3 separate regions of the Homo sapiens genome follow, and all the other regions are reported to be linked to region 1. The links are microRNA targets in miRTarBase. Many come from high-throughput screens and were not tested one by one. Region 1 holds a microRNA gene; each other region holds the end of a gene's coding sequence.

Evidence for each region. The annotated mature microRNA hsa-miR-455-3p reads GCAGUCCAUGGGCAUAUACAC and lies in region 1 at 2,162-2,182, shown strand. An mRNA with a match to its seed (bases 2 to 7 or 8) in the 3' UTR can be bound and repressed. Matches are read on the target gene's strand: a 7mer-m8 pairs with bases 2 to 8, a 7mer-A1 pairs with bases 2 to 7 and ends in A, and an 8mer does both.
Region 2: the mRNA of TMEM119 is a reported target of hsa-miR-455-3p. The part of its 3' UTR that is shown has no 7-base or 8-base seed match.
Region 3: the mRNA of TRAF6 is a reported target of hsa-miR-455-3p. The part of its 3' UTR that is shown has no 7-base or 8-base seed match.

The regions. Positions count from the first base shown.
Region 1 is chr9:114,207,326-114,210,579 of GRCh38, forward strand. It overlaps MIR455 (microRNA 455), which reads left to right and starts at 2,109; the gene lies at 2,109-2,204. COL27A1 (collagen type XXVII alpha 1 chain) reads left to right here. Exons shown (of 61, transcript NM_032888.4): 11 at 2,350-2,403.
Region 2 is chr12:108,588,699-108,591,952 of GRCh38, forward strand. TMEM119 (transmembrane protein 119) reads right to left here. Exons shown (of 2, transcript NM_181724.3): 2 at 1,153-3,254. The coding sequence ends at 2,834. Among named protein-coding and RNA genes, the nearest start is that of TMEM119, 7.8 kb to the right of the region's middle. RefSeq lists an enhancer at 80-808.
Region 3 is chr11:36,486,842-36,490,071 of GRCh38, forward strand. TRAF6 (TNF receptor associated factor 6) reads right to left here. Exons shown (of 7, transcript NM_004620.4): 7 at 1-3,230. The coding sequence ends at 2,997. Among named protein-coding and RNA genes, the nearest start is that of TRAF6, 22 kb to the right of the region's middle.

The DNA.
Region 1 (3,254 bases):
CCAGGAGGTTACTGTGACAGGCAGGGCCTAAGGAGGCTCTTGTCCCAGGGTGCTGTGCCTCTCTTCCTTTATTCTGCTGCTCCCATGGGCCATTCCCCCAGAGGGACCCCCTAAACCCAAGGAGAAAGGTCTTCTCAGTCCAGCCCCAGTCCTGATCTCCTGACCTGCCAGAAGGACAGGCATGTTAATGACATCTGGGGTTGCTCGACTTGCCTGCCAGGCTGGTGGCATCTCAAAGTCACATAGCAGGAGAGGACTGGTCTGGCCCCAGCACTCCTGTCTCTTACAGGCCACACAGCCCTGGGTGGGAAGCCTGGATGAGCAGTGAGTCACTCAAGCTGCCCTTCCAACCCTGCCACCACCAGCCTCATATTTCTGAAGTAGGCAGAGGGCAGGCTTTGGAATCAGGATGACAGGCTTTGAGACCTGCCCTGCCATTAGCTAGCTGTGGGAGCTTGGGCAAGTCACTGGGCCTCTCTGAGCCAATTATTTTCTCACCTGTAAATCTGGGAGATAAGCACTATTTGGAATGGCAGTAAATGGCACTCTTTCAGATTATGGATATTAATCATGCTGGATGCCAACGAGGAGGCTCAGTGGCTTCTTGGCCTTCCAGGGAAGGAGAGATGGTTGTGAGCCTCCATTGGTTGCTTGTTTGAGGAGAGGCAGTATGCAGAGTGGTTAGGAGCCCAGGCCCAGGAGTCAGAAGACTTGAATTTGAATACCAGTTCTACCACATTTCAGCTGTTTGGTCCTAGGCAAGTTGCTTCACCCCTCTGGGCCTAAATGGTCTTACCTCTACAGGGGGCTGAGTAATAATACTTCCTCAGGGCTGGGCGCGGTGGCTCGTGCCTGTAATCCCAGCATTTTGGGAGGCCAAGGCGGGTGGATCACCTGAGGCCAGGAGTTCGAGACCAGCCTGGTCAACATAGCGAAACCCCGTCTCTACTAAAGTAACTACAAAAATTAGCTGGGCGTGGTGGTGCACACCTGTGATCACCTGTGATCAGCTATTCAGGAGACTGAGGCAGGAGAATCGCTTGAACCCGGTAAGCAGAGGTTGCAGTAAGCCACGATCGCACCACTGCACTCCAGCCTGGATGACAGAGCAAGACTCCGTCTCAAAAAATATATATAAATAAAAAAATAATAAAATATAATACTTCCTCGGGGTGTGATAAGGATGGAATAAATGCTTTAATATATGCAAAGCACTGGCAGCAGGCCTGGCCTATCATTCGTGCTCAATAAACATTAGCTTTTGTTAGAGTTATTATTAAATCATTCCACCAAGAGTGGCACGCAGATAGTGGTAGAAGCCCCGGGCGAGGTTACTGCCCTTTAGAAGTTCCCAGGCTAATGAGGACGTGAAGCATGAACACAAATAATGAAGATACAAGGGAGAAAGTGGAGAAGGATGCTACCGAGGTGCAAAAATGGCACTGGGGATGGGGGGGAGAGATTGCTTCCGGCTTGGGGTATCAGGGATGCTTGCCCAAGGAGAGCGCTTATGAGAGCTGGGCTTTGAAGGATTTGGCTCAGAAGTCATGAGGGATGGGAAGGACATGCCTGGTGGAGGGGACAGAGTGAGGAAAGGCTGGGAGGGAGGAAATGAGATGCATCCTAGGGAAGAGCCCCAGAATGGTGACGAGCCCCAGCTGTGGAGTCAGCTGGCCCTGGGTGACCCTTGAACTGATTAGGAATTCCCGAAGAGAATTCACAGCTCCACTACTGACTAGTCGTGTTGCTTTATCTACAGAGCCTCAGTTTCTTTGTCTGTCCAGTGTGGGTGGTGACAATCTGGGGGGTCCTTGTGAGAGTCTAATGTGGTAGCATGCATGTGCCTGGCACAATGTTGGCACTCCGGGTTCGCAGCCGCTGTTAGTTAATGCCAGCACTCAGGCGGCCAGAGGTGGATGTAAGCCCTACATCCAGGACCTTGAAGGCCTAGGAGGAGCCATGGCAGGAGCCACGGGCACCTACCAGCATCCCTGGGGGTGGGCAGGGCTTGGTGCCGTGCTAGCATCTAACCCAGCCGCGAGCTTCCTTCTGCAGGTCCTGGAGCCCTGGCGTGGGGCGGGCCTCCTGCCGGCGAGCGCCTGCGCCCTTCCCTGGCGTGAGGGTATGTGCCTTTGGACTACATCGTGGAAGCCAGCACCATGCAGTCCATGGGCATATACACTTGCCTCAAGGCCTATGTCATCGAGGAGCCACCGGAGCTGCCACTGCCACCAGGGAGGAAGAGGAGGAGCCGGGATGTGGGATGGCAGTGGTGGGTGGGCTGCGGCAGGTTGGGCCAGCCACACCTCACTGCTTGACCGCTCTGACCCCCTTTCTTCTCTTTCCTAGGGCTACATTGGGCTCCCAGGGCTCTTCGGCCTGCCAGGGTCTGATGGAGAACGAGTAAGTTTGCTTCTTTGGTTATTCACCATCCACAGCCACCCCTGCCCAAACAGAGCAGAACCTGCCAGGCACCAGCCTGGGGAAGTCAAGGAATTCCTCCTGGAGGAGGTGCACTTGAGTCGAGTAGGAGTCTGATAAGGGGACAAGTCAAGGCAGATGCATTCCAGGCATAGGGAACAGCATGTGCGAAGTCAGGGATTTACGGTAACTTGGCGAGTTTAACACTCAACACTGCCAAAGTGCTGCGTGAGAGGGTGAGAGTGGTGGGAGTTGAGGCTGGAGAGGACCCTGGGGCAATGTCTTAGGTGCCCAGGACTAAGGTTAGAAAAGGAACTCTGTTCTGAGGGTATGCGGAGCCTCTTGAGGACTTGCAACCAATGAACACCGGGCCCACTTTATAATATAGATCAGGGGTCTGCAAACGGTGGCCCATGGGCCAAATCCAGCCAGTTGTCTGTTTTTGCAAACAGTTTTATTGAACTCAGCCTTGCTCATTTGGTTACATATTGTCAATGCCGCTTTCTCACTACAATGGCAGAGTTGAGTAGGTGTGACAGAGACCGTATGGCCCACAGAGCCAAAGATATTCACTATCTGCCCCTTTCCAGAAACCATCTGCTGATTCCTCTTTTAGACAGATCAGTTGGTTTACTTGAGTAAAATGTGTTGGTTGGGGGTGGGGACAGCAAGAGCAGGTGGCAGGAGTTCCAGCAGCCAGGGGGAGCGGCTGTCTGGGGAAGGTGGTGGGACTGGTTTGGTGGTGGGCAGTGGGTGCTAAGATTTCCTAAGACACCCTGTCCTTCCAGACCAAGTATCTAAGTCAGAGGAGTCCAAAAGATGGTGTGGGAGCT
Region 2 (3,254 bases), not on the chromosome of region 1:
AGGTGTCATAGGCAGAAGGAACAGCAGCTGTAAAAGCTCAGAGGTGAGGAAGAGGTGAACTGCTCTGTTGCTCGGAACACCTCCTTCATTCATCCCCCACCAGTCTTGGGGGTCACAGGCTATGGCTGAGGTCATGGACTCCATGTCCTCTGGAGGGTCCCGCTGAGCATTAGTGGAAGACTGCAGACTGGAGCCGCTGATCAGGGAGCTCACCCCCGTCTGCACCCCCAGGGTCTCTAATGATTGCTTCTGTTTTACTAGATTTTTATGTATTCAAGGGAAGCTTCATGCACTTCCCAGTCACGTCACAACAACTAACACCCCGCAGGAGCTTGGGAACAAGAAGAAAGCACAGCCCGTGACACCCAGCGAAGTTGAATGATTTGGTCGATTTGGTCAGAGCCACGCAGCACACACAGGTATTACTCTTCCACCCTCCTGCTGTTCTTGGCAGGCCTGGCTGGGCTGAGAAAGGGAGGGCCCTTCCCCACTGAGTGAGACAGAGGCTATTGTGTGTTATGAAACCCAAAACTCTGGGGCCCCCTCCGGCTGGAGGTGGGGTCGGTGGAGGGGAGGGGCTGCAGGGGATGGCCCACTGCCCCCCAGCCCCAGGGACCCAGCACATGCTCCCAGCCCCAGCCACATCTGGATTCCAGCTGGCAGCTCCTGAGGCCCAGGGTGCGGGGGAGAAGTCGCTGCAGGAACTTGCCATCAAAGACCAAGAGGAGTTTTGTGGGTGGGGAGACAGAAGGCAGAGGCCGACTGCAGGGCCAGGGCTGCCTCCTACTCCCGATCCCGGCCAAGGGTGCAGTGAGGGGGGCATTGTCCATGAGACCCGTCCCAGTCCTCAACCACCTGCAGGGGAAACAGAGAGGTGAGTGACTCTCCCATGGCCACAGTGGCAGAGCTGGGCATGGAACCTGGGTCTGCGTGGCCACAAGTCCAGAGCTGGTGCTCCACCCCTGGGGACATGAGTTCCAGCCCATTCCTCGGGAGCACCGGTCTTTCCTTTGTTTCCCACATCAATCTGTCCCTTCACCCTCCAGGACTGGGCTGATGTGTCTCCCCAGAAAGTTGTCCCCATCCCCATGCAAGAGCCCCTCCCCAGCAGGCTCATTTCCCCCACCCCCCAGAAAACTGGTGAGACTTCAGGCCGGAATAAAGGTTTATTGTGCTGGTGCATTATATCTCAGCACCTGGAGAGCTGTGCAGAGGTTGGGGGAGCCCCAGATGGAGGGATGGGGGAGAGGACCTCCTGCCAGAGCCTCCCTAAAGCAGGACGGAGCCCAGGCTCCCTGTCGAGGACTGACGAATATTGTGGACACAGGCTGCCAGACAATGTGTGAGCAACAGGGGGTGGCCAGGGCCCCCCTGCTCCAGGCTGGGCGTCAGAAACCCTTCCCCAGCCCCTCGGACTTCCCCAGGGTGGAGGTCCCCTCAAACACAGCCCCTCAGCTTCTAGGCTGCTTTGGAGGCCAGACAGGAAGAGTTCCATTCATTCAACCTGATCCCAGCAGCAGTAGCGGGATGAGAAACTCACCCCCAGGCCGGGGGTGCTTGGAGAGCGCTTGAGAGGATTTAAATGCCCTATACCCCACATCCCTAATCCTGGACCAACTAGAAACAGGGGGCCACCTTCAGGAAAATTAAGAGCAGTATTTTCCAGAGTGGGTGCTGCAGGATTTTACCCTGTAGCTGTTTTAAAAAGTAGTTTGGGCCGGGCACGGTGGCTCACGCCTGTAATCCCAGCACTTTGGGAGGCAGAGGCAGGTGGATCACCTGAAGGTCAGGAGTTCCAGACCAGCCTGGCCAACATGGTGAAGCCCCATCTCTACTAAAAATACAAAATTTAGCTGGGCGCAGTGGTGGGCACCTGTAATCCCAGCTACTGAGGCGGGAGAATCGCTTGAACCTGGGAGGCGGATTGCACTGAGCCAAGATTGCACCAAGATTGCACCACTGCACTCCAGCCTGGGTGACAGACCGAGACTCCGTCTCAAAAAAAAAAATCTTGTTTCCGTAGAGTGCCTCGGGGAACCTAGTTTGGGAAATGCTCATTTAGGGACCTGTCGTAATGTGTGCAGGGGTCCTCTCACAGAAGTGTCCTAATTAACCACACACACTTCTGCTGCTGGAGCTCTGAGCACAGGCAGAATGACACTAAAATATTCAGCATTGAAAGGACACAAGAAGGGAACCATTTGCAGTTTCAAAATACTGCTTCACGCCAGGCTGCATGTTGCCTTACGAACGCTGGGCACCTTGGCGTCTCTCATCCAAACTCTTCCAAAACTCCCACTTATTCTTTGCTCCCTTGATGGAAAAGCAGTGATGTTTGCCCCACAAATGACCTGTGACATATGATTCCCAATTAATGTGGCTGATTTAGTGGACTGTTTTTTGTTTTTATAGAGATGGGTCTCACAATGTTGCCAGGGCTGGTTTGGAACTCCTGGTCTCAAGTGATGTCCGCACTTGGCCTCCCAAAATGCTGAGATTACAGGTGTGAGCCTCCACACCCAGCCTTGAGGGATGTTTTATCCTGGCTGTCACAGGGACACGTGCCCTCCCTCACTTTGTCAGGGGAGCTGTGCTGTAGGATGTAGCCCTTTGGGGCTGCTGAGGTGAAGGATGATGGCACTTGGTAAGATTCCTCCGGGGCACCGGGGACCAGCATTTCTGCCTGCTGTAGAATCAGCACATGCTGGGATTGGCACCACAGGGAGGCCAAGGAGGGAGTGTCAGGAAGCAGTCAGGGCTGAAGGCCTTTTCATACACGGGGAGGTGACCACTTGGGGGCCCGACAGTCAGGGCTGGCAGCCCGGGAGGACTGTTAGACACTGGGGTGGACACTGCTGCAAGCACAGGGGCTTTCGGGGGGACCCACTGGTCCCTGGGCTTCCTGGGCTAACAAGAGAGACCCTTCCAGCTCCCCTTGGCCCTCACCGGCCACCACAGCCCCCTCAAGGACCCCTGAGCACGGCTCCTCCTGCGCCTCTGGTGTCTCCACTGGGACCCCATGTCCCTGGACTTCCTGGTCCCCCTCCTGGCTGCCCTTCTCCTCTTCCTCTGCGCCCCTGCCCTCCACCATCCTGGCTCCGTCCCCACCGCCCAGTGCAGCCCTGGTGGGGGACTTGAGGTTCTGGGTGGCGGCCAAGATGTCGGCCTGGAGCTGCCGGGAGGAATCCAGGGCTTCCTCGGGCCTGCTGTCGGGGGCTCTGTCGGGGACCTCACTGAAGGCCCGGGGGCCCCCG
Region 3 (3,230 bases), not on the chromosome of region 1:
ACTTTGGGAGGCTGAGGCGGGCGGATCATCTGAGGTCAGGAGTTCCAGACGAGACTGGCCAATATGGTGAAACCCGGTCTCTACTCAAAATACAAAAAAATTAGCTGGGCGTGGTGGCGGGTGCCTGTAATCCCAGCTGCTTGGGAGGCTGAGGCAGGAGAATGGCTTGAGCCCGGGAGGTGGAGGTTGCAGTGAGCCGAGGTTGCACCACTGCACTCCAGCCTGAGCGTCAGGGTGAGACTGTCTCAAAACAAAAAACAAAACAAAACAACCTTTAGTTGAACATCTCCAGAAAAAAGTGGAAACAATTTCTTTTTTAATTTAGCAATGTCCCAGAATGATGCCAAAAGATAAATATGGTAAAAGGTGGTTAGTAACATACAACATAAAGCCCAAAGGCTTGTATACCCAACTGAGTGAAACTAGCATGTTTAAGAATAGAGTAGGAGATTGGGAAAATGTAAGGAAGAAACCAACTTTCCAGGTTAAGGCTTAATTCTGATTGAAGTAAAAAGTTTTCTATTTGGAATGACAGCTTGACTATTCTACTTTGTAGTCAAGATGAATGACCAGCATAAAATAACTGGCTGGTTTATGACAAAATGCCAAATGTTGGGGGTTAAAATTGCTCATTTTACTTAAGATGTGACCCAGCTGATAGACACTAAATTAGAGGAAAGTATCAGTGTCAGCAAAGAGTAAGTTAAAGACATTTTATACTGGCAAAATACTTTCCTAAGTATTGTCATTGTTCTGCTGGTTGGAACTTAATTTGAGACAGAATGTTATGGCTGGAGGGGACTCTAGAAATATCTGGTCCAAATCATTTTACAGATGGGAAGCTTGCTAAAAGCTGAAATTAGGCAAAACAACTTTTTTTTTTAATAAAGACTCTTGAGTTAGTAGAAAAAAATAGTATCACCAAGGCAGGAAATGACTCCTCTTTGTATCTAATGCACAGCCAGTGCTTTTAATAGAAATCTGACCAGGAAGCTTTTAAATATCATTTCCTTTTTTGAGCTGGGGGCGTGGAGATTAAATGTTTTGTGGCAACATTTAATTTTTTTCTCCGATAAAAGTACACATTTATTGTAGAAAATGTAAAAAATATAAGCAAGCGCAAAGGAAAATAAGCCAACAAAAAGTTTAGTATATTTCCTTCAGGCTTTTTCTACGCAAATACAAAAATACTACTGTTCAGTTTTTAAATGGAACTTGACAATTATTTATTCATTGTAAAATAATCACAGGAACAGCAGCAGTGTAGGTTTCCCTACCTAGAGGGTGGTATGCAGTGATTCTCAGGCGCTGGTTGGAAGGCACAGCTGAGGGACACAAACTGCCAGGAAGTAATGTGGTAACTAGCCATGAGCTTGTGGTACTAATGGTGGCACGGGAAACAAGGTCTCTGCTTGACTTTTATTTTCACTCCATAACAAACTCACCAGATCAGGAGCCTAAGGGTGGGTGGGGAGGGAGAAGAGAGAAAAAAGCAAAGGGAAAGTTCAAAGTGACACTCGCTGGGGCTGAAAACCACACTCCCCTGCAGATGAGGTCCTTGGCTTTCTCTTGAAATTAAGGCTGATCTAGAACGCTGGCTGGCGACTCTGATTTGGCCTCTCTGGGGGATACAATGTCATCTCTCATTACCAGACAACTTTAAATGGTGGATGGATCTTTAGATCCTTTATAAGCTTATACTAGTTGCGGGTCTCCCTGAGAACTAGATTCCACGATATTTTATATCTATATATAGGCCTTTAACAAATACATGATGGCACACAAAAAAATCATCTCCCTATTAGGAAAATCTGGTTACTTCCAGGATTCTACAGGATCCTTCTCAGAACCTGCAGTTGTTAGGCTACAGCAACATACTCAAGCTAAGTTGTGATACAACCACTGTGACTTCTAATCCTAGTTTGGTGACCTCCTAGGTATCTCCAATCATCTCCCAAGTTTTAAAAAATTCTGATTTTAGGAAATCAATTTTGTTCTTTTTAATCGAAATAAACCAGAGGGTATTCAAAAGAGCTGAAAACTTCTGGCTCACATAGCTTCTGTCACCACCAATGAGATGCCACATGCGCTGACTACTTGGGTCACTTTTAATTTTTATGTTGCTGATTGTATGTGTGCATCTCCTGTCTTGTAAGCATTAAACAAATGAAGACATATGCAGAGCTGTGAAATTCACTCTGCACTGAATAGACAAAAAGGGTTACATAGCATAACAATGAGCAGTTGGTATCCACGTGGTTCTCAGCATTATAAACTCTGGGGAAGATGCTACTTCGTAACCTCAAGGAAATAAGTAAGCAAGGCAGAAGGAACACTTAAACAAGTATTATTCAACAGACATGTTTACACTAAATAATTAAGGTTATATTTAGGGTTTAAACTCATCCCTGAATATCCTTAGTAACAACCTGGAGGAAAAACTGGGGTGAATGAGAACTTAAGTTTTCCAAGGATTATGGTTCAAATCCTCTGAAATCTATAACAGGTTAAAAAAATGAGAACTCAACTTTCTAGAGCAATAACTCTTCTCGAGGGCACTAGCACAAGGCGGTAGTGATTTTCACTTTTAATATATTACATATAATACTACAAAAAGACTGAAGTTTTAAGGAAAATCCATTATTATTAAAAGTTTAGTACTCTTGAGTCTGGACTTTCTGACAATAAAATACACCAGAGCAAAAGCCCAAGAAAGTACAACAAAGAGGTATACTAACTGGCAAAATAGCTGCTGCAACATGCCACAGGCACTTCAGGCCTAACATTTCTGAAAAAGCATGGAACGTGTGGATTCCCAGGAAAAAACTGCCTCAGATCATTTGTAACAGGAAGAAATAGTAAGTGACCTCTCTAACAACACTCACTAGTAGATATTACATATTTCCCGTGGCTTGTTTGTTTGCATGTTATTGAGAACAGGGCAAGGAAAGGCACTGTTTTCTCCAGGTAGTTGTTTTTGAGCAAGTGAGGGCAAGCTATACCCCTGCATCAGTACTTCGTGGCTGAAAACCCTCCCTCCGAAGGCTACCCATGTCAAAGCGGGTGGAGACCTCACAGCGCACTAATAATGTGTCATCCTTAATGAAAGTTCTTTGTCTTAGGGCTTCCAGATGCATAAAAGTTACATAGCCAAAACCTTTTGGGTTCCGTGGGATTGTGGGTCGCTGGAAAGCAAGCAGCTCTGGTTTGGCATCCATTATCTCTTCGTG